Homo sapiens: one gene and its partners. The protein of the gene in region 1 interacts with the protein of each later gene in a pairwise test. Each region holds a gene or a part of one and is shown in the gene's direction. Other genes may lie near its edges.

Region 1 (8,074 bases):
GTGTGTGGGCATGATCTCTAGCCCCTGAGCAGGTGGTGTCATGTGAGTGATGGCAGTAGCACTGTTGAAGCAGCCAACTGGGATCCAAGCAGTCCATGTTGGTGTTGCTGGAAGCTGTGATGGGTTGGGTGAGCTACTCCCCAGTCTCACAGCCACCTGTAGCAGGGTGGTGGGCACTGTTCTAAGTGTGCTTAGGAGAGCTTGGTCTTCCCTGTCCCTTTCCTACCAGGGTGGCAGCTGCAGCCACATTGCCTGATTGTTAATTCAGACTGGTTATGAATCAGCATTAAACTCTCAAAATGGTGCCAGCTGTGGGCTTGTGAACAGAGAAGGTGGGGCCCCTATCAGGTGAGCAGCATGGTCAAGAAGCTGTAGGGAGGGTGGTCTACTTGAGTCTCGGTCTCACAGCAACCCGTAGCAGGCACTGGGTATTGTCCTAGGTATGTGCGGGAGAGCATAGATTCCTTGTTTCTCCTTGACTGGGCAGCAGCTTCAGCCACATCAAGTTGAACTCAGCAAGAAGGTGGGGCACAGCCCAGCATTAAACTCTCAAAATGGCACCTTGGGCCTGTGACCAGGAGGGCAGGGGTCCCTCCAGGCAGGCAGCATGGGCAAGAAGCTGTAGGGAAGGCAGTCTGCTCACATTTCAGTCTCAACAGCAGCATGTTGCAGAGCAGTGGGTATTGACCTAGATGTGCATAGGACAGCCTGATTTCCCTGTTAATCCTTGGCTGGGTGGCAGCTACAGCTGCACCAGCCCAATCTCAGTTCCAGGGAGGGGTGCTGCCCAACATTAAACTCTCAAAATAGCACCTGGAGCCTGAGACCAGAGAGGGAGGAGCACCTCACAAGTAAGCAGCATTGGCAACAAGCTGTGGAACACACAGGATGGCCACATCTCGGTCTCACAGCAGCCCATGGCAGGGCAGGGGGTCTTGTCCTAGATATGTGTAGGATGGCCTGATTTCCCTATCCTTCCTTAGCCAAGAGGCAGCTACAGCCTCATCAGCCCAAACTCAGGCTGGGAGGGGAATGCAGCCCAGCATTAAACTCTCAAAATGCTACCTTGGGCCTGGGATCAGAGAGTGTCCCTCCCAGACAAGCAGTGTGGAAAAGAAGCTGTGGGGAGGGGTGTCTACTCACATCTGTCTCAATAGCAGCCCACAGCAGGGCAGCAGACCCTCCCAGGGGTGCATGGGAGCACCTGCTCTCCCGTCTCCCTCCTTGAAGCAGCTCGGCAGCAAGAGCCATGTCTGTAGAGTCCCAGTATCTAGGCTCTCAAAATGGCACCCTGCTGAGGCTGCTCCAGGTTCAGATGCATGTGAGATTTTGTATTGGTTTCCTTTCTGGAGCAATGCCTCTGTGCAATGTTTAGGCAGCTCCGAATGTCAGGCCCAGGCCCTGGCCCAGTGGGTCGAGGTTTCCTTCCGTGGCCAAGATTATAAAAGTTTGTTTTGGAGCCCTAGGGGGTTCTCTCTTACTGTTTCCCCACATCAGGAGCCTCTCCCGACTCTCAGTCGGTTCCCAGCTGGGCAAGCTGCCTCGAATCCTCTCCTTACTTCTCATGTTTCCCATATCTTTTCTGGTTTATCCTAGCATTCTCTCCTAGACAATCTGTTCAAAATGGATCCACTTACTATTCTGGTTTCTCACCATGGTGGAGGCACATACTACCTGTGTTTAGATAGCCATCTTGATCCTTTCGAAAATTTACTCTTTCAATAAGAACCTGACAAATACATAATTTAGAATTAAATGATACAATATTTGTGTCTCTTTCAGCCGCCATCCCATTCTCCCTTATTAGTATGAAAATGTTAGAGGTGCTTAAACCAACAAAAAAGCTGCCTTAAATTAATCTCCTGAGAATACTTTCCTTCTATTTCCCTAACTAGGAATTTGTATCGCCTTTAAGCAGAAATCATCTCCCTCCTAAGGCCCTGCTCAGGCTGTAACTCTTGAGTGACAGTGGTCAAGTTACATGCTGACCTGGAATCTAAATCTGCATCTTGTTCCAGAGGACCTAGTGCAGCAAAGCATTATACTTTACTGTCACAACTAAGATGGCAAAAGGCTAACAGCCTTTATTTTTAAAGGGTTCATACAGACCAACAAACAAAAACTGAAACTCAAAATTATTTTTAAAATAGCAAAAGAACTGACAGCACTTCACAAAAGAAGAAATACAGATGGTCAACAAACACTTGAAAATGTTAAACTTTACTTATTATGAAGAAAAACTATCAATGATTCATCATTTGTCATTATCAAAGAATAAAAGACTCAAGAATATGCAATACTGGGGAGGATGGGATGAGACAGGCACTCTCTGAAACTGCTGGTGGAAACATAAGTTGATTCACAAAAATATTCACCATAGCATTCATAGCATTATAAAATAATGTTACAAAGCATCTATGTATAAACTATAAACTATGATACAGCTATATGCAGCCCTTAATGTTTAGGAACCATTTCTAGTTCACATAGAATGATGTTCACAAAGTGGGATACAAACATATATATTTATGTAATCCCAACAGTGTAAAACAATAGTGTAAAAAGAAGTGTGCTGTTCAGAGTGGTTATTTCTACGACCTGAAGTATAGATGACTTTTAGTCTTTTCTCTGCACTTTCATGTATTTTCTAGTTTCCTACAATCAGCATGTGTTATTATAAACAGGAAAAGGTTTATCTAAAAATGGCCACAGTGACTCAGCAGTCTCCCCTTTGCCCTCTGAAGGAAACACTGGCTTATCATTAAAGGACATTTAAAAGCTCATTGTGGTGGAAGTGTCATTACCAGGATTGTTTAAGAAAAGAAAAACAAAAACCAGGGAAGGCCCATGGGGAAGTAGAGAAGAGTGTCATGGGGTTTCCAACCAAAGATCCATATGCTGTCACTGCAAAATGTTTAGGGAAAGAAGCGAGGACTGACTTCCACCCTCTCCATACACAAGTTCCTGAATTCTGTCCATAGTTCAACAGAAAGCATGGATGGGCCATGCCAGCACTGTGCTGAGCATGCATACGACATTAAACACAACCCTCCCTCAGGCAGCTCTGCTGTCCTAAGATGTGTAACCAGGATTCGTACATGAAAGAACTCAGGGAGCCTATGTAGCATTTTCATTCGCTCATTTAAAAAAAAAAAACAAAAAAAAGAGCCCCTACTGTGTATCAAAATAACAAAACTGAAGACTGTTCCTCAGAGACATGACACTAGAGTGGAGAATAAATCCTAATTTATAGCTAAACCAGAGTGTGGGCTGAAGGAGCCCAGGAATGCTCTTGCTGCATGGATCAGATTTAGAGAAGCAGAAAGTAGAGTAGGACTCTAGGAGCTGGGGGGTGGCTGAGGATGGGCAGATGGGAATGTATTCATACACAGCCTGAGCAGCTGAGCAGGTGCTGGACTGCACAAGGCAAGAGGGGAAGCTGGGCCTCACCAGAGAATTCCAAGTTCAAGTTCCAAGTCGCACCAGATGATGGCGAGCCTCATAAGAGCTGGGACTGAATATAAAAAGGTGAGAGGCCACCACCTTCTCCACATGCCTGGTCCTGGGCTTCTTGGCTCGTTTTGTTTTGCTCTACATTAAAAGGTCAGTTGAGAGAAAATGAGGAAGTCAAAACAAAGGCTCCTGGCGTCTGGCAGGAGCTGCCGCAAGGTGGCTGATGCAATCTCCCCGAGGAGCCACATTAATTTTTAAAAAGGCAGCTGTTTTCAAAGCAAAACGTTTAATAATTTTTTTTGGAACCCCAGTGTAACAGAATTCAAATGGGAAAAGTGAGAGGGAGTGTTTAAACAAAGGCATCCCCAAGTCCCTTCCCAGTTGGTCCTGAACAATGGAGGAGGTCAAACCTTCTTTTCCACAGCATGATGGTATAAATCAGGGAAGTCCTGGAAATCTATTCCACACCCTAAAATACCCAAACCCATTAAAAGCACAGATATAGGCTTTTACAAACATTTACTAAATAAGCAAAACCATACAAAATATGTTCCCGTCGGCAATTTTTCCCATACCATGGACTCAAATGGTTAAAACTCCTTATCATCCCAGACTAATGCCACCTTTTCAATTCCCAATAATTCCTTCCGTAACAAGCATCATTGCTCCAAGAATCTCTCAACTACATTCAAACCCGAGTCTTCAGACCCTTGGCCCTCTGGGACCTCCAGAGCCTTTGACAGTGCCACCCAAGGCAGCAGCCAGGGCTTCTGCTGGGACAGCCCCTCACTCCTCCACTCTGACTGTCCCCACTGGGCTTCTCTGGAGCAGAAGCCACGGGCAGAACTGGGCAGACTGCCCAGTGCTGCTGAGTCCAGAGAAGCGGCATCTGAGGGGAGGCGGTGGCAGTGTGGACCCCACCCTTACTGTATTCACAGGCCCCAGCTCTCCATCAGCCAGCCTGCCCAGGTCTCTGCCAAAGAAGTCGCTGGTCAATCTTCATTCTCATTTTTGGCATACACCTAGGTCCTTTGAATGGAGCTGCCCTCTCTCTCAGCCTGTTCCATGTTCTTTATTTTCCCCACTTGGTCCCTTTCTGTAACAAATGCAGTGTGTAGAATGAGACAGACCTTCCAGTCAGCTCTGGGAAAGAGGAGGGAGCTGTTCCCCCAGAGGGGTCCCCTCAGAAACTGATCATCAGGGCTGTGTAGCCTTCAGGTCCCTTCCCAGGGCCACGACTCATTTTGCTGCTGAACACCACCTGGGACTCCCTGCTGGGGCTTCCAGGAGGCCATTTGGTATCATGGCCCCAGTACCTTGTGCCTCACAAAGCTTGAAGCTCTGTGTTCCTAGTCACTTCCTGGTGAATGCTGTTGTATTAGTCCATTTTCATACTGCTATGAAGAGATACCCAGTAATTTGAAAAGAAAAAGAGGTTTAATGGACTCATAGTTCCACATGGTTAGGGAGGCCTCACAATCATGGTGAAAGGCAAAGGAAGAGCAAAAGCACATCTTACATGGCAGCAGGCAAGAGAACATGTGCAGGGGAAATGCCCTTTATAAAACCATCAGATATCATGAGACTCACTACCATGAGTACAGTATGGGGGAAACCCACCCCCATGATCCAATTACCTCCCACTGGGTCCCTCCCACAATGTGGGGATTATGGGAGCTATAATTCAAGATGAGATTTGGGTAGGGACACAGCCAAACCATATCAGCCGAAACTTATCCCATACTGGAAAATACACATATGTAAAATACAGTGTGCAGACCACTGTTTCAGAGACCAACTGGACAAAGCCCTTCTGATTTAAAACGGAGTGAAAAGAATTTTTTAAAAGAGTATAACAAAGTGGGCACTTTTATATACAATTAGAGGGACTATGATTAGCAAATTTTCTGTAGGCCAGTTAGGCAGTATTTAGCAAGATCACTAAAAGATATTTCTACCCTTGATCCAATGATTGCACTTATAGGTAGATCACCTGAGAAAAATCAGATTCCAAACACGATTCACACAGCGTCTTCACTTATAATGGTGAAAAGTGGAAACAATTTGTCTAGTAATAGTGTAATGGATGATCCCACATGAACTATTGCACAGCCATTGATCATGTTTTTGAAGAATATTTAACAGCTTTGAAAAATGTTTACTAAATCTAGTGAAAAAACATTACATTCAACATCATGATTATGTAAAAATACATCAGTACAGGAAGAAAATATTGGTAGAATATTAACAGTGGTTTTATGTGTATGATGGGATAAAAGGTTATCTTTTTTATTATTATTTTTAAAATATCTTCTGGCCAGGCATGGTGGCTCATGCCTGTAATCCCAGCACTTTGGGAGGCCAAGGTGGGTGGATCATTTGAGGTCAGGAGTTCAATCAAGACCAGCCTGGCCAACATGGTGAAACCCATCTCTACCAAAAATACAAAAATTAGCCAGGCATGGTGGCGGGTGCCTGTAGTCCCAGCTACTCGGGAGGCTGAGGCAGGAGACTTGCTTGACCCCGGGAGGCAGAGATTGCAGTGAGCCAAGATCGCACCACTGCACTCCAGCCTGGGTGACAGAGTGAGGCTCCATCTCAAAAACAAACAAACAAACAAAAACGTCTAAGTTTTCTATAATTCATACTACCATTGTCAGGAAAAAATATGTATTAGTTTTTAAAGTAATGAGTATATGATGGGATTTCATCACCAGGTGACATCTTGTCTTGACCCAGTAATGAGTTCCCAGAGCACTGCAGGTAAAATCAGAGTGGGTGTGTCAGTGGTCCTTGACCCAGGCTCACCTTCGAATGAGCTTCAGAGCTTCAGAAACACACCAGTGCCCAGCCCGAAGCACATAAGTTGAGCTCTGATTGATCTGTGGCCCAGCAATGGGTAGTTCTTACAGCTCCCCAGGTGGTTGTCTTGGCAGCTGTGGTGAAAACCAATAGCTTCCTCCACCTTCAGGTCTCCATTAAGGGTGGGCCTTGCCCTTCACCTCAGTCAAAACCCACCTTCAAAAAAGATCTGAGAAATCCCCTCACTAATGTTTCCAATGGCTTGTTGTATTTGGACTGGAGCAAAGCCTTTGGCTAAAGAGCACTTCACTCAGTTTAAGATGTTTCACACTTTCAAAGCTGCTTGGGAGAGACTTTTCCTCCTGACCTCAAATCAGAGGGCAGCTAATGACTTATTTGCAAATAGGTCCTGGCAGGAGGTTACCTCAGACTTCTGGTCCTTGGTGGAGGGCAGGGTAGGAGGGAAACTTGCCATGAGTTTGTAAGAAATGCCAAAGGGAGAACATGAGCTTGTCTGGACACAGGGAACAAGCAAGGGAGAGATGGACTGACTGCTGTGACTTCCCCGCAGGTCCCCCGGCAGAGGGCAGTAGAGATGGCCGGCCCAAGGCCTCGGTGGCGCGACCAGCTGCTGTTCATGAGCATCATAGTCCTCGTGATTGTGGTCATCTGCCTGATGTTTTACGCTCTTCTCTGGGAGGCTGGCAACCTCACTGACCTGCCCAACCTGAGAATCGGCTTCTATAACTTCTGCCTGTGGAATGAGGACACCAGCACCCTACAGTGTCACCAGTTCCCTGAGCTGGAAGCCCTGGGGGTGCCTCGGGTTGGCCTGGGCCTGGCCAGGCTTGGCGTGTACGGGTCCCTGGTCCTCACCCTCTTTGCCCCCCAGCCTCTCCTCCTAGCCCAGTGCAACAGTGATGAGAGAGCGTGGCGGCTGGCAGTGGGCTTCCTGGCTGTGTCCTCTGTGCTGCTGGCAGGCGGCCTGGGCCTCTTCCTCTCCTATGTGTGGAAGTGGGTCAGGCTCTCCCTCCCGGGGCCTGGGTTTCTAGCTCTGGGCAGCGCCCAGGCCTTACTCATCCTCTTGCTTATAGCCATGGCTGTGTTCCCTCTGAGGGCTGAGAGGGCTGAGAGCAAGCTTGAGAGCTGCTAAAGGCTTACGTGATTGCAAGGGTTCAGTTCCAACCATGGTCAGAGGTGGCACATCTGCTCAGCCATCTCATTTTACAGCTAACGCTGATCTCCAGCTCCAGCGATGGAACCCACTACAGAGGAGGTGGGGCCCCTGTGTCAAAGAGGCCGAGGGGCAGCAAGGGCAGCCAGGGCACCTGTGACTTCTTAGTACAAGATTGTCTGTCCTTCAGGACTTCCAAGGCTCCCAAAGACTCCCTAAACCATGCAGCTCATTGTCACACCAATTCCTGCTTTAATTAATGGATCTGAGCAAATCTTCCTCTAGCTTCAGGAGGGTGGGGAGGGAGTGATTGCTGTCATGGGGCCAGACTTCCAGGCTGATTTGCCAAATGCCAAAATGAAACCTAGCAAAGAACTTACGGCAACAAACGAGGACATTAAAAGAGCGAGCACCTCAGTGTCTCTGGGGACATGGTTAAGGAGCTTCCACTCAGCCCACCATAGTGAGTGGGCCGCCATAAGCCATCACTGGAACTCCAACCCCAGAGGTCCAGGAGTGATCTCTGAGTGACTCAACAAAGACAGGACACATGGGGTACAAAGACAAGGCTTGACTGCTTCAAAGCTTCCCTGGACCTGAAGCCAGACAGGGCAGAGGCGTCCGCTGACAAATCACTCCCATGAT
Region 2 (8,074 bases), on another chromosome or scaffold:
CCTTTAGAAAGTTATTAAGCAAACATTTGAATTCACAGAATCTTACCAGTGTAAGAGGAATGGAAAAGGTAACTTATCAAGGTAACAATCACTTCGTGGCCAGTTTTTTCGGCTCACTGCAACTACCCCTCCTGGGTTCAAGCGATTCTCCTGCCTCAGCCTCCCAAGTAGCTGGGACTACAGGCGTGCACCACCATGCCCAGCTAATTTTTTTTTTGTATTTTTAGTAAAGACAGGGTTTCACCATGTGGGCCAGGCTGGTCTCATGGCAAGTTTTCTTTGTGTTGTCATGTTATTATCAATTAATAGGAATTTATATTTCAGTTCTGTTAGGTGGATAAACACTATTTTGCATACCTAAATGTTTCATTTATATCAGCACTGGCCAATAAAAATATACTATAAGCAGGCCGGGTGCAGTGGCTCACGCCTGTAATCCCAACTTTTGGGAGGCCAACACTTTGGGAGGACACAGGGTCAGGAGATCGAGACCATCCTGGCTAACCTGGTGAAATCCCGTCTCTACTAAAAATACAAAAAATTAGCCGGGCGTGGCGGGGGCGCCTGTAGTCCCAGCTACTTGGGAGGCTGAGGCAGGAGAATGGCACGAACCCGGGAGGTGGAGCTTGCAGTGAGCCGAGATCTCGCCACTGCACTCCAGCCTTGGTGACAGAGCAAGACTCTGTCTCAAAAAAAAAAAAAAAAAAAAAAAAAAAAAAATATATATATATATATATATATTACAAGCCACAAGCCACATATGTACTTTTAAATGTCCTAGTAGCCATATTAGAAAACAAAAGTAAAAAGGAATAGATGAAATTAATTTTAATGATTTTTTTAAACCCAAGATATCCAAAATATTATCATTTTAACATATAATTAAAAATTTATTGAGATGTTTTACATTGTTTTTTTTTTTCTTGACGCTGTCTTGGAAATCTAGAGTGTATTTTACATTTACATTACATCTAATTCAGTCTAGCCACATTTCACATGCTCATTTTTTTGTGTGTGGTTTTATGGAGCAGAGAGTTTAATAGGCAAGAAAGAAAAGAGAAGGCAGAAGAAAATGGCTCCCCTGTACAGAGACGCGGGGGTGGGGCGCTCCAAAGCCAAAAGAGGAGGTCCCTAAGTATGGTAGACACCAGCCAGGAATATATGCAGTGTCTGGAGGAGGGGATGTCTGATTTGCATAGGGTCACATGCTCATTTTTATGGCTACTGTATTGGTCAGTACAGATTTAGATGGGGATTTGCTCTGAACAAGTTGGTGATTGATGGTGTTCATATTTTAATTGAATTTTTCCTGGGTTCTGCTGTACACTTGTATGTGTGTTAGTTTCATGTGCAATGCTTGTGTCACTTTTAAAACCCAGATATATGGCATAACATGAGAATGAAAAATGGACCAGAAAAATAGTTTGGCAATGTAGTCATGTTTGTTCCTATTAAATGTTCCCTATTGACCACTCTATCTCTTTTAATTATAACAAGAATCTGCCCTGCCAGCATGCCCAGTTACGCTGGGAAAACTTCTGCCTCATTTACTCTGGCTGATTCTCATCCACTTATGGGTCAGTGGTTCATTTTCTAGAGGTCACCAGCATTCATACCTAGCATACAATTTCATTCATTATAATGAAGGAATGTTTTCCCTTCAAAGAGACACAACTAGTGGGCTTAATTTTTCTTGATATGTCACCTGTAAAATTTTAATGATGATGTTTAAACTCTAAATGTAGCCATCAAGACAAAAACTGCAAATTTTGAGCCTCAGTGTGTGTGGGTGGGTTTCTGTTTCGGTAATTTGAAACATTGCAGAATATCATCAAAATATGATACCCAAGAATCATATGGTATCAATCATTCCTAGATATACTGATCTATTCATTGCCAAGATAGTTCAATGAGCTGGCAAAAACATATGGAATTATTTTCTTAAAATGTGAAAAATAAAATTTAACCAATCATGTATCACAGCTTGCAACTTTAGTCATACTTTGAAAAGCATTTTAATTTGGACCTCATGATTGAAAATTTATAAAAAGCTGAACAGAAATTAGTTCACTTCATATTTTAGAAAAGCAGAGTTTCTTTACTAAATGAGGCATTTGACCCAAATTGGAGAGAAAATGTTGAAACTACTTCTGTGAGCAAGCAGGTGGCTTCTCAAACACATGTTGGGATGAAATGGTTGGGCCTCAGGGTCTCAGTGCCTGTCACTGAGAGTTGGCACTCTCTATCTCCATGGTCTCCTCCAAGTGTGACTCTTGTCTCTTGCTGACCTGACCTGCCCCAAGTGACTCACTGGTCATGACCCTGCACACCTTGCGTCTCTCCTATCACCCTGCCGATGGCAGAGCTACAAAGGTCTTTGATGTAGCTCTGTCTGATATCCTGTGTTTCCCCCTATGGTCTGTGTGGAAGCAGGTATGGGGGTGTGTAAAGGGGAAGCCTATGAAGTTCATCTGCAAAGACTACCTGGTTAGGGGAGGAGAGGAAGAAGCTATATGCACCATTTCACCAGCAAGCATGGGCTCTTCTGCCTTTTAGCTTAGGGGTCCTGTTGTCTAGTCTCACTCACCTATTAAAACAGTCCAGCAAATAGAGGTTTTGTTTACCTCCCATTAAAAAAAAAGCAATTAATGGAATAGAAGATAATAATGTATGAGAAGCACTATTGTGAAAGAAAAACCTTCAACTTCTCTCAGCCAAATAATTGCTTCCTCCTCTGTCCTTCCCAGACCTTGATGTTTGCTCTATTATTTCAAAACAACTATATTATAAATATTTGAGAATGTGTATTTCCCTGCAAGGAGATCTTAATCCCCAAGAAGGCAGGAGCTGTGTATTATTCATCCCAGTGCTCCTTCAAACCAGGGCCTCAGACAGTGCATGGCCCAAAGAGGTACTTAATAAACGTTTGGTAAACTGACACTATTGAAATTAAGCAACCTGGATTTGAGGTGGGTCTCTGCCACTCACAAGAGATTACGCTTTGAGAAAATTCCATCACTTCATTGATTTTCAGTTCTTGCATCTGTATATGGGAGACGATACTAGGTGATTTCTGACATCTCTCACCGTTTAAATGCTCTGTGATCTATACAACGAGGGGCTCGCTGTTCTAGACAAGTTCCTTCCAGCTTTACAGTTGCATAACCCTTCTAATCTTAGTCACATGATGACTCCACTGACAGATTTTTGGCCACCATCATTAGACATGCTGAGTTACGTGTGCCTTTGCTCTGATCCTCAAAACTCATGATTTTTAAAGTTTTCTGAAATATCTACCATTTATCAGGATCCAGATGGATTTCATGACCAAAGTGGATGTTTCTTTTCTCTCCCATTACAATCTTTTACTTTTTGTGTGGGAAATTGCATGTTAAAGAAAGGGAAATTGAAGAATGGGATGCTTTGGAATTCTGGCAAGATGGATTAGTGGGTTCCAGAAAGTAGGGGCAGCCACAAATACCGAAATAAATGAGATCGTATTATTGAGAAAGCACAAATGGAAGAAGGTCAAAAGCAAGAAGAAGCTGACATCCTGCTTCCTCCAATTTTTGCTTTCTCTGTTTTTCCAAGAAACTCCTCTTCCAAGCCTTGCTGAAAAACTCCACTTTCCTAAATCTAACTTCTTAAACTGATAATGGCAAGAAGTTAGGAATGACCAATATGTTTAACACTCCAAGAGTATTTGTTTTGTTTTGTTTTGAGACTGGGTCTCACTCTGTCGTCCAGCCTGGAGTGCAGTGGTGTGATCACAGCTCACTGCAGCCTTGACCTCTCCTGCCCAAGGAATCCTCCCACCTCAGCCTCCTGAGTAGAAGGGACCACAGGCATGTGCCACTACACCTGGCTAACTTTTAAAAAATTTTTTTGTAGAGATGGGGTTGCCCAGGCAGGTCTCAAACTGCTGGGCTCAAGCAATCCTCCTGCATTGGCCTCCCAAAGTGCTGGAATTATGGGCATAAGCCACTACGCCTGACCTCTCCAAGGGCATTCTTTACCCAGAAGAGGAACTTGGCAGAACTTATCCTCCAATTGGTGAGGAATATGGAGAAAATGACTTTAAGCAAAGGAACTTCTGGTTCTGCCTACCTAATCCAGAAAAAGAAGTTTTATTTCTCCCTTCCCCTAGTAACTATCTTCCCATATTCACATAAAAAAGTACAGAATCAACATTGTTCAAGAATTATAATTTTACTTGTAAGCACATGTGCACACGCACACCCATATACCTTCCTTCCCTTTAAATCATCCCACACCCTAATAGTAGTAAAATCATTGACCCGAGCATACCTGGGAGAGGAAGAGGAGTCTGACAGGGGCAGGTTCTAAGTGGCACTCCTGGAACTTAACCCTGGTGTATATGAACTTTACCTATTGAAGGATGACTCCTCAACTGTTCTCACAATTTGCTGCTCTGCTTTCTTTTCTAATTTCTGAAGGTGACTCATCTTCCCCAAGGACTTTCAGACTTCTCAGAAGAAAAAAATATTGGGTGGGTCTCTGCCACTGGCAAAAGATTAGACTTTGAGAATCATAAAAGTATATCAGTATATACTCATTAATATTGAATTACTATAATTAATATTATGATATTGATATAATGATAGAATGATATTGATAAAAGCAATATTCAATAATGAATATTATTTCAGCTGCCCACTTATTGGGTGCCTCATAGGTGCCAGGCATTTTGTATGTATTATCTACAACCCTTACATGGGACATATTATGATGCTGTTTCTCTTGAAGAAATATGGAAACTGGAAACAGAGAGGTCACCACAATTTTCCAAAGTCACATAGCTAATAGGTAGCAGACTTGGGATTCAAATTCATATGCATATGGTAAATCATGCTCTTCCTCTGCTACATTTTGCCCCCTTAGAATATGAAAAAGGGATACAAAGAGATGAAGAAAATATGTAAGATTATCCTTCAATTTCACTATCTTTTTTAAAGTTTTTTTTATTATACTTTAAATTCTGAAATACATGTGCAGAACATGCAGGTTTGTTACATAGGTATACACGTGCCATGATGGTTTGTTGCACCCATCAACCTGTCATCTACATTAGGTATTTTTCCTAATGCTATCCCTCCCCTAGTCCCCCACCCACCGACAAGCCCCGGTGTGTGATATTCCCCTCCCTGTGTCCATGTGTTCTCATTGTTCAACTCCCACTTATGAGTGAGAACATGCGGTGTTTGGTTTTCTGTTCCTGCGTCAGTTTGCTGAGAATGATGGTTTCCAGCTTCATTCATGTTCCTGCAAAAGGCATGAACTCATTTTATGGCTGCATACCATTCTATGGTATACATGTGCCACATTTTCTTAATCTAGTCTATCATTGATGGGCATTTGGCTTAGTTCCAAGTCCTTGCTATTGTGAACAGTGCTGCAATAAACATATGTGGGCATATGTCTTTATAGTAGAATGATTTATAATCCTTTGGGTATAGACCCAGTAATGGGATTGCTGGGTCAAATGGCATTTCTGGTTCTAGGTCCTTCAGGAATTGCCACACTGTCTTCCACAATAGCTGAACTAGTTTACACTCCCACCAACAGTGTAAAAGCGTTCCTATTTCTCCACATCCTCTCCAACATCTGTTGCTTCCTGACTTTTTAATGATTGCCATTCTAATTGGAGTGAGATGGTATCTCAGTGTGGTTTTGATTAGCATTTCTTTAATGACAAGTGATGATGAGCTTTTTTTCATGTTTGTTGGCCGTATAAATGTCTTCTTTTGAGAAGTGTCCGTTCATATCCTTTGCCCACTTTTTAACGGGGTTTTTTCTTGTAAATTTGTTTAACTTCCTTGTAGATTCTGGATATTAGTCCTTTGTCAGATGGGTAGATTGCAAAAATTTTCTTCCATTCTGCAGGTTGCCCGTTCACTCTGATAATAGTTTCTTTTGCTGCGCAGAAGTTTTTTTAGTTTAATTAGATCCCATTTGTCAATTTTGGCTTTTGTTGCCATTGCTTTTGGTGTTTAGTCATGAAGTCTTTGCCCACGCCTATGTCCTGAATGGTAATGCCTAGGTTTTCTTCTAGGATTTTTATGGTTTTAGGTCTTATGTTTAAATCTTTAATCCATCTTGAGTTAATTTTTGTATAAGGTATAAGGAAGGGGTCCAGTTTAGTTTTCTGCATATGGCTAGCCAGTTTTCCCAACACCATTTATTAAATAGGGAATCCTTTCCCCGTTGCTTGTTTTTGTCAGGTTTGTCAAAGAGCAGATGGTTGTAGATGTGTGGCATTATTTCTGAGGCCTCTGTTCTGTTTCATTGGTCTCTGTATCTGTTTTGATACAAGTACCATGCTGTTTTGGTTACTGTAGACTTGTAGTATAATTTGAAGTCAGGTAGCGTAATACCTCCAGTTTTGTTCTTTTTGCTTAGGATTGTCTTGACTATTCAGGCTCTTTTTTGGTTCCATATGAAATTTAAAGTAGTTTTTTCTAATTCTGTGAAGAAAGTCAATGGTAGCTTGATGGGAAAAGCATTGAATCTATAAGTTACTTTGGGCAGTATGGCCATTTTCATGATATTAATTCTTCCTATCCGTGAGCATGGAATGTTTTTCCATTTGTTTGTGTCCTTTCTTATTTCCTTGAGCAGTAGTTTGTAGTTCTCCTTGAAGAGGTCCATCACATCCCTTGTAAGTTGTATTCCTAGGTATTTTGTTCTCTTTGTAGCAATTGTGAATGGAAGTTCACTCATAAGTTTGCTCTCTGTTTGTCTGTTATTGGTGTATAGGAATGCTTGTGATTTTTGCACATTGATTTTGTATCCTGAGACTTTGCCGAAGTTGCTTATCAGCTTAAGGAGATTTTGGGCTGAGACGACAGGGTTTTCTAAATATACAATCATCTCATCTGCAAACAGAGACAATTTGACTTCCTCTCTTCCTATTTGAATACGCTTTATTTCTTTCTCTTGCCTGTTTGCCCTGGCCAGAACTTCCAATACTGTGTTGAATAGGAGTGTTCACCACCTATTTTAAGAATAGTATTGAAGCCTCACAAAAGCTGGTTCTCATGTAACCATCTGAGAATATTTGGCCTTATGACTTGAATTCATTCATTGCCTTTTTATTTCACATTTTAGTGATCCTGATGTCTAAATCTTAATCTTTGATCCTTGCAAGGTAAAATAGCCAAGTCAAGCCTGTTTAATAATATTGGTTGAGGAAGTCACATGCTTATGATCAATCTTTGGGTTATGTAATTATATTACCTTAATGTTGGCAGTTTAGGTGTAAGGCAGAGATATCTGATCACATGTGTGGTTAGCTAATTTAAGATCACTGCCAACTAAAATCTTCATGGTATGATCTTCAAAGTTAGCTACTTTGACCACAGCAATGATTTCACCACAGCAATTAACAAAATGGCAGACTCTTTCCTGAGGTGGCATGAACAGTTTTAAAACAAAGTCAAGGACCAAAAGAAAAGCAGGCACATGGCATTTGATTCATTTCAAAAACTAGTATTGTATTAAGAGCCAAGGGGATAGAATTGTAGCATCAATTAAAATCTTGTTTGAAAAAAAATAAAAACAAACGTCCATTTTTATCTCTCAAATATATTAGGGTTTTCATAAAGTTATAGGTGTATTTTTAAAAAAACAAAACTCATATACATTAGACTGAAAAATTTGCCTGTCATCTCATCATGCAGCTAAATGCAATTGTCTATGGCGAGATACACTCTTATTAGAGGTATGATAGCACTAACTAATAGCAAACTTTGTACCTGGTAGTCTAATTTATGCAGGGTTCATATTTCGCTCCCTCTCAGCATGCTGTAACTGTGGCAAAGCCATTCTCAGGAGTTATTACCCCAACATAATCATACCCCTGTGGATTAGGAGCAGTTAAATGGGTCCTGTTATCAGAGACACATATGTGCCACAGCCGCTGTCATCCCTAAGCCACCGTGGGTGATTAAGACTCACTGATGGGACTACCTCTGAATAGGCTTGAGTGAGGTGGATACACTTCAGCTGAGAGAAATTCAGGTAAGGGGCTGAGAAAATCAGATTTTGAATGGTT
Region 3 (6,526 bases), on another chromosome or scaffold:
GCAGATTGCATGAGAAAAAGTAGCACGATTATTCCCACCACACATGCTACAGTGGGAGGAAGACATTGATCCTGTTCTGCATACCATGGGGACGGGGACGGGTTGTGGGAGGTGACGTTCCCAAGCCCTAAATATGTAGGACAGGGCACAGGGCAGGTCCTCACCCTGAGGGTCATGTAGAGGAATGGCTGGCTGAATGGAATTTTTATTTGCAGAATTTTGTGGCCAAGGCCCATGGCTCTCCACGGGTGTACTGGCTGGGGCTGAATGACAGGGCCCAGGAAGGGGACTGGAGGTGGCTGGATGGGTCTCCTGTGACATTAAGGCAAGTGCTTGGGTTTCCTGGGGTCTCTCTGCTTCCTCTGTGGGCCCTGACCATGGGGAGGGGAGAAGGTGATGGAGTACATGGTTGAAGGAGTCAGGAGCTGTTTCTTTTTTTTTTTTTGAGACAGAGTCTTGCTCTGTCGCCCAGGCTGGAGTGCAGTGGCGCAATCTCAGCTCACTGCAAGCTCCGCCTCCCAGGTTCAAGGTATTCTCTGCCTCAGCCTCCCGAGTGGCTGGGACTACAGGTGCCCATCACCATGCCCGGCTAATTTTTTGTATTTTTAGTAGAGACGGGGTTTCACCGTGTTAGCCAGGATGGTCTTGATCTCCTGACCTCGTGATCTGCCCGCCTTGGCCTCCCAAAGTGCTGGGATTACAGGCGTGAGCCACCGCGCCCGGCCAGGAGCTGGTTTTTACTGGTACAGCTCTACTTGTTTTATTTTATTTTATTATTTATTTATTTATTTATTTATTTATTTATTTATTTATTCTTTGAGACGGAGTCTCGCTGTCGCTCAGGCTGGAGTGCAATGGTGCGATCTCAGCTCACTGTAATCTCTGTCTCCCAGGTAGAGGTTGATTCTTCCACCTTAGTCTCCCAAGTAGCTGGGATTACAGACACCCGCCGTCGTGCCTGGCTAATTTTTGTAATTTTGTAGAGATGGGGTTTCACCATGTTGGCCAGGCTGGTCTTGAACTCCTGACCTCAGGTGATCTGCCCACCTTGGCCTCCCAAAGTGTTGGGATTACAGGGGTGAGCCACTGCGCCCAACCTTATTTTAGTTTTTTGAGACAGTCTCGCCCTGTCACCCAGGCTGGAGTGCAGTGGTGCAATCTCGGCTCACTGCAGCCTCAACCTCCCAGGCTCTGGTAATCCTCCTGCCTCAGCCTCCCGAGTACCTGGGACCACAGTCACACACCACCATGCCTGGCTAATTTTTTGTATTTTTAGTAGAGATGGGGTTTTAGTGTGTTGCCCAGGCTGGTTTTGAACTTCTGAGCTCAAGCGATCCACCCGCCTTAGCCTCCCAAAGTGCTGGGATGACAGGCTTGAGCCACCACACCTGGCCTCTACTAATTTTAAACACAGAAAAATTCCTGTCCTGTTTGGTAAATTGCCATTGCCTTAAATCTCCTGAGAATCCTTCTGCTGCCCCTTGGACTTCCACATCACCTAACAACTAAAGGATTTGTCATTGGCAAAGAAGGGGCCTAGAGACCCTGATTGCAGGGTGTGTGGCACAGGTAGCATTGCTCATTATTTTGGTACACCACCCCCAGTCATTCCCATTTCCCTGTGTGCTTGGCATCCTTGCAGTCCAAGCTGATAGGGTGTCTAGCATCCCAGGCTTGGCCAGACAGGGACAGCACCAGGGTGATTTTTTGGTGACAGGCTGTCTGGACCCTGAACCTTCAATATTTCCTCCATTGCAACATCTCAGTCTTTTCGTAAAACTGCTGAAATATATCAAGCTCTCCAGGCTAATGGTTGGGAGAAAAAAGGGAGGGTGGAAGGATGAGGAAGAATTTTTTTTTTTTTTTTTTTTTTTGAGACAGAGTCTCACTCTGTTGCCCAGGCTGAAGTGCAGTGGTGCAGTCTTGACCCAATGCAACCTCTGCCTCCCAGGCTCAAGTGATTCTCCCACCTCAGACTATTGAGTAGCTGGGATTACAGGTGCGCACCACCATGCCTGGCTAATTTTTTTTTTTTTTTTTGAGACGGAGTCTCACTCTGTGGCCCGAGCTGTAGTGCAGTGGCACAATCTTGGCTCACTGCAACTTCTGCCTCCTGGATTCAAGCGATTCTCCTGCCTTAGTCTCCCAAGTAGCTGGGATTACAGGCGCCCGCCACCATGCTTGGTTAATTTTTGTAGTTTTAGTAGAGACGGGGTTTCAACATGTTGGCCAGGCTGGTCTCGAAATCCTGACCTCAGGTGATCTACCCGTCTTGGCCTCCCAAAGTGCTGGGATTACAGGTGTGTGCCACCGCACCTGGCGGAACATTGGCTGCTAAAGGCTCACAGGAATGCTTTTTCCGCAAAGCTATTCTCAGCTGAATGGGAGCCTGCTCACCTAAGACACTACCCAACTCCACTGGGGTCAGCTCACAACCGGTGACAGCCTAAGAGAAGCCTGGACCCCTTGTGACAAGTTGGGATGACTCTGGTGCTGTTGACATCCCAGTGGTCTCTGTTGGGGTCAGGCTGAGGCTAGAGTCATCTGAGTCCATGCTCCTGCTCAATTCCTTCCCCTTCTCCATCTAGCTTCCCTCACCTCTCTCCTAAGAACATCCTTTAATAAATCCTACACACTCGAGTCCCTGAATCAGGCCCTGCTTTAAGCAAGAGCCCACATGATCTAAACAATTCCTAGAAGGTTGGGTTGGGAGGTTGTAAAAGAAAGAGTCCTTGGAAGACAAGACAGAAACTGACCAGATTCAGAAATTGATTAAGGGGCCAGGCACGGTGGCTCGTGCCTGTAATCCTAGCACTTTGGGAGGCTGAGGCGGGCGGATCACTTGAGGTCAGGAGTTCAAGACCAGCCTGGCCAACATGGTGAAACCCCGTCTCTACTAAAAATATAAAAACTAGCCGGGTGTGGTGGTGGACACCTGTAATCCCAGCTACTTGGGAGGCTGAGGCAGGAGAATTGCTTGAACCCAGGAGACAGAGGTTGCAGTGAGCCGAGATCACGCCACTGCACTCCAGCCTCAGCGACAGAGTGAGACTCTGTCTCCAAAACAAAACAAAACAAAACAAAAAACCCCCCAAAACCAGAAATTGATTAAGGGCCAGGCACGGTGGCTCACTGTGCCCGGCTTACAGGTGTAAGGCTCCACACACGGCCTAATATGGGTTTTGCCAAATGCGTAGTGCCAGGTATTCATCATTACAGTATTATACAGAAGAGTTTCACCACCCTAAAGATCCCTGTCCCTCTGCCCACTTTTTCCTCCATCCAGCTTCTGGGAGCCAGAGGAACCCAATAACATCCACGATGAGGACTGTGCTACCATGAACAAAGGTGGCACCTGGAATGATCTCTCTTGCTACAAAACTACGTATTGGATTTGTGAGCGGAAATGTTCCTGTTGAAGCCCAGGGCCGAGGCTGGGGGTCCATATCTGAGTGTCTCTTTGAGATGAGAATCTCCTGCCCTTTCGTGGACGGCCTTGCCTCTTCGTGAGTGGACACACAGATGTGCCTCAAACAGGATTGGCACCCTGGATGCAGCAAGTTCCCAGGGGTGCAAGTCAGGCTGTTTCTAGAGTGAGGACTTGGGCTTGCCCTAGTAGATGGTGAGCTGGGAGGATGCTCAGAGCTTGGTGGTGGGAGGTCTCCCACTTCTGGGGTTGAAAGGATCTTCACTAAGTTCCTGATCATGACTCTTGGGAAGTGATACTAGCCCTGAGGACCCTGGGGCTGGTGTTGAACCTGGGATGAAATATCCTGGCGCCTGTGAACCACAAAGAGCTGGGACTGGGCTCCTTTTCCTGCAGCCTCAAACTTCTGGGCTCAGGTGATCCTCCCATCTCAGCCTCCTGAGTAGCTGGGACTACACATGCGCACCACCATGCCTGGCCAATTTTTTGTAGCATTTAAAGAGAGGGAGTCTCACTATGTTGCCCAGGCCAGTCTCAAACTCCTTGCCTCAATGGATCCTCCTACTTGGGCTTCCCAAATTGTGAGGATTACAGGTGTGAGCCACTGTGCCTGGCTCAAAATTATTATTATTATTTTTATAGAGATGAGGTCTCACTCTGTTGCCGAGGCTGGTCTCAAACTCCTGGGGTCAAGCAATCCTTCCGTGATGGCCTCCCAAAGTGCTGGGATTACAGGCATGTGTCACCGTACCTGGCCGATATTTTTATTTTTATTTTTACTTTCCCCATCTTTTCCTTTTTTTTTTTTTTCCAAACAAAAGCTTTGAAAGTGGTGACAGAAAAATTTCCCTTTGAGCTAGACCTCTAGATCTGCCTCGCACAGAAATACATTAAGTGGGCTGGTCTCATGTAGTCCCCACATCATTGCAAATTACAAACCTAAAAATACAGAACATCAGCGGAGAAGACAGGAGAGCTTCTATATTCACCCCATGTCGTCCTCTCCAGACACTGCTTCCTTCCTGGTCTCAAACAGCACAAATAACCCAGAAACCATCAAAATTATTTTTGACCAGCAACTTTCTCAATGTCTTGGGTGAGGTTTGCACAAGCTAAGTGGCAGAATCAGACTTTTGCCAGAAGACTTGGCCCGTGGAACTTCTATCCTTTTTTTTTTTTTTTTTTTTTTTTGAGATAGGGTTTCATTCTACTACCCAGGCTGGAGTGCAGTGGCACAATCATAGCTTACTGCACCCTCTGCCTCCTGGGCTCGAGTGATCCTCCTGCCTCAGCCTCCCAAGTAGCTGGGACTACAGGCGTTCACCCTCACACCTGGCTGGCCCATGGAACTTCTAGAAAGGCATACCAGCTGAAAAGCAAGACCCCTACATAGTGTGGCCAGGCAGGCCATAACCTGGTCATATCCACACAGGACAACGATGGACCTATCTGCCAGCACGTGCCCTTGAGCTATCTGTGGGTTGTAACGTCTTTGATGATATAATTCACTTTACTTGCCAGGCACAGTGGCTCACGCCTGTAATCCCAGCACTCTGGGAGACTGAGGTGGGCTGATCACCTGGGGTCAGGATTTCGAGACCAGCCTGGCCAACATGGTAAAATCCTATCTCTACTAAAAATACAAAAAAATTAGCTGGGCGTGGTGGCATGTGCCTGTAATCCCAGCTACTCAGGAGACTAAGGCACGAGAATTGCTTGAACCCAGGAGGCGGAGGTTGCAGTGAGCCGAGATTGTGCCACTGCACTCCAGCCTGGGTGACAGAGCAAGACTCCATCTCAAATAAATAAATAAAAATAAAAATTCACTTTACTTCTGTGTGGACTTTCCTGGGCTATTAGCTCTTGCAATGTTAGTGCTTCTCAAAATGCCACTATGTTGGGTGTTCCTTGTCTACTGTGTGTTAGTTTGCTGGGGCTGCCATAACAAAGGACTGGGTGGCTTCAGCAACAGAATGCATTTTCTCACAGTTCCGGAGGCTGGATGTCCAAGATCAAGGTGTTGGCAGGGTTAATTTCTTCTGAGGCCTCCTGTCTTGGCTTGTAGATGATCCTCTTCTCCCTGTGTCTTCACCTGGTTCTCCTTCTGTGTGTCTGGGTCCTAATCTCCTCCTCCTCTTCTTTTGTTTTTGAGACAGGGTCTCGCTCTGTCACTCAGGCTGGAGTGCAGTGGTGTGATCTCAGCTCACTGCAACTTCCACCTCCCAGGCTTAAGCATCCTCCCGCCTCAGCCTCCTGAGTAGCTGGGATTACAGGTGTGCACCACCGTGCCTGGTTAATTCTTGTATTTTTTGTAGCAACGGGGTTTCACCATGTTGCCCAGACTGGTTTTGAACTCCTAGGCTCAAGCAATCTGCCCACCTTGGTCCCCCAAAGTGCTGGGATTACAGGCATGAGCCACTGTGCTGGGCCTACAACGACCACTTTAAAGATCCTGTCTCCAAATACAGCCATATTAGGAGGTCCTGGGAATTAGAATTTAAACATATGCATTTGGGAGGGGTGGCACAATTTGGCCCATAACATTCACAAACTGCCAGAGTGACCCCCACCCGACCCTCCTGCCCTGGCCATGTGACAACCAAAAAATACCAATTAGAGGGCTGGTACTACTCCCAGCTAGGCATAACTCAACATAGTATTCCCTTTGGACAATCCCTGAATTGCATCCAAGGGTGGGTAGACATTCTCCAAACCAATCAATTTATTTTTTTTTTTTTTGTGACAGAGTCTTGCTCTGTTGCCCAGGCTGGAGTGCAGCGGCGTGATCTCGGCTCACTGCAACCTCTGCTTTCCAGGTTTAACTGGTTCTTCTGCCTCAGCCTCCTGAATAGCTGGGATTTCAGGCACGTGCCACCATGCCTGGCTAATTTTTGTATTTTTAGTAGAGACAGGGCTTTGCCATGTTGGCCAGGCTGGTCTCGAACTCCTGACCTCAAGTGATCCGCCCACCTCAGCCCCCTAAAGTGCTAAGATTACAGGCGTGAGCCACCATGCCTGGCCTTATTTTATTTTTTGAGACAAGGTCTCACTCTGTCGCCCAGGCTGGAGTGCAGTGTTGTAATCATAGCTCACTGAAGC

Evidence for each region.
Region 2: the proteins of TMEM140 (region 1) and CLRN1 interact in binary tests that used the Homo sapiens proteins (3 or more experiments, as listed by UniProt).
Region 3: the proteins of TMEM140 (region 1) and CLEC17A interact in binary tests that used the Homo sapiens proteins (3 or more experiments, as listed by UniProt).

What each region holds. Positions count from the first base shown.
Region 1 is NC_000007.14:135,157,592-135,165,665, forward strand, and holds part of TMEM140 (transmembrane protein 140), read left to right. Parts: intron 1-6,826; 5' UTR 6,827-6,850; coding exon 6,851-7,408; 3' UTR 7,409-8,074.
Region 2 is NC_000003.12:150,961,960-150,970,033, reverse strand, and holds part of CLRN1 (clarin-1), read left to right. Parts: intron 1-8,074. UniProt on the Homo sapiens protein: May have a role in the excitatory ribbon synapse junctions between hair cells and cochlear ganglion cells and presumably also in analogous synapses within the retina.
Region 3 is NC_000019.10:14,606,778-14,613,303, forward strand, and holds the end of CLEC17A (C-type lectin domain family 17, member A), read left to right. Parts: intron 1-215; coding exon 216-325; intron 326-3,286; coding exon 3,287-3,419; 3' UTR 3,420-5,258; downstream 5,259-6,526. UniProt on the Homo sapiens protein: Cell surface receptor which may be involved in carbohydrate-mediated communication between cells in the germinal center. Binds glycans with terminal alpha-linked mannose or fucose residues.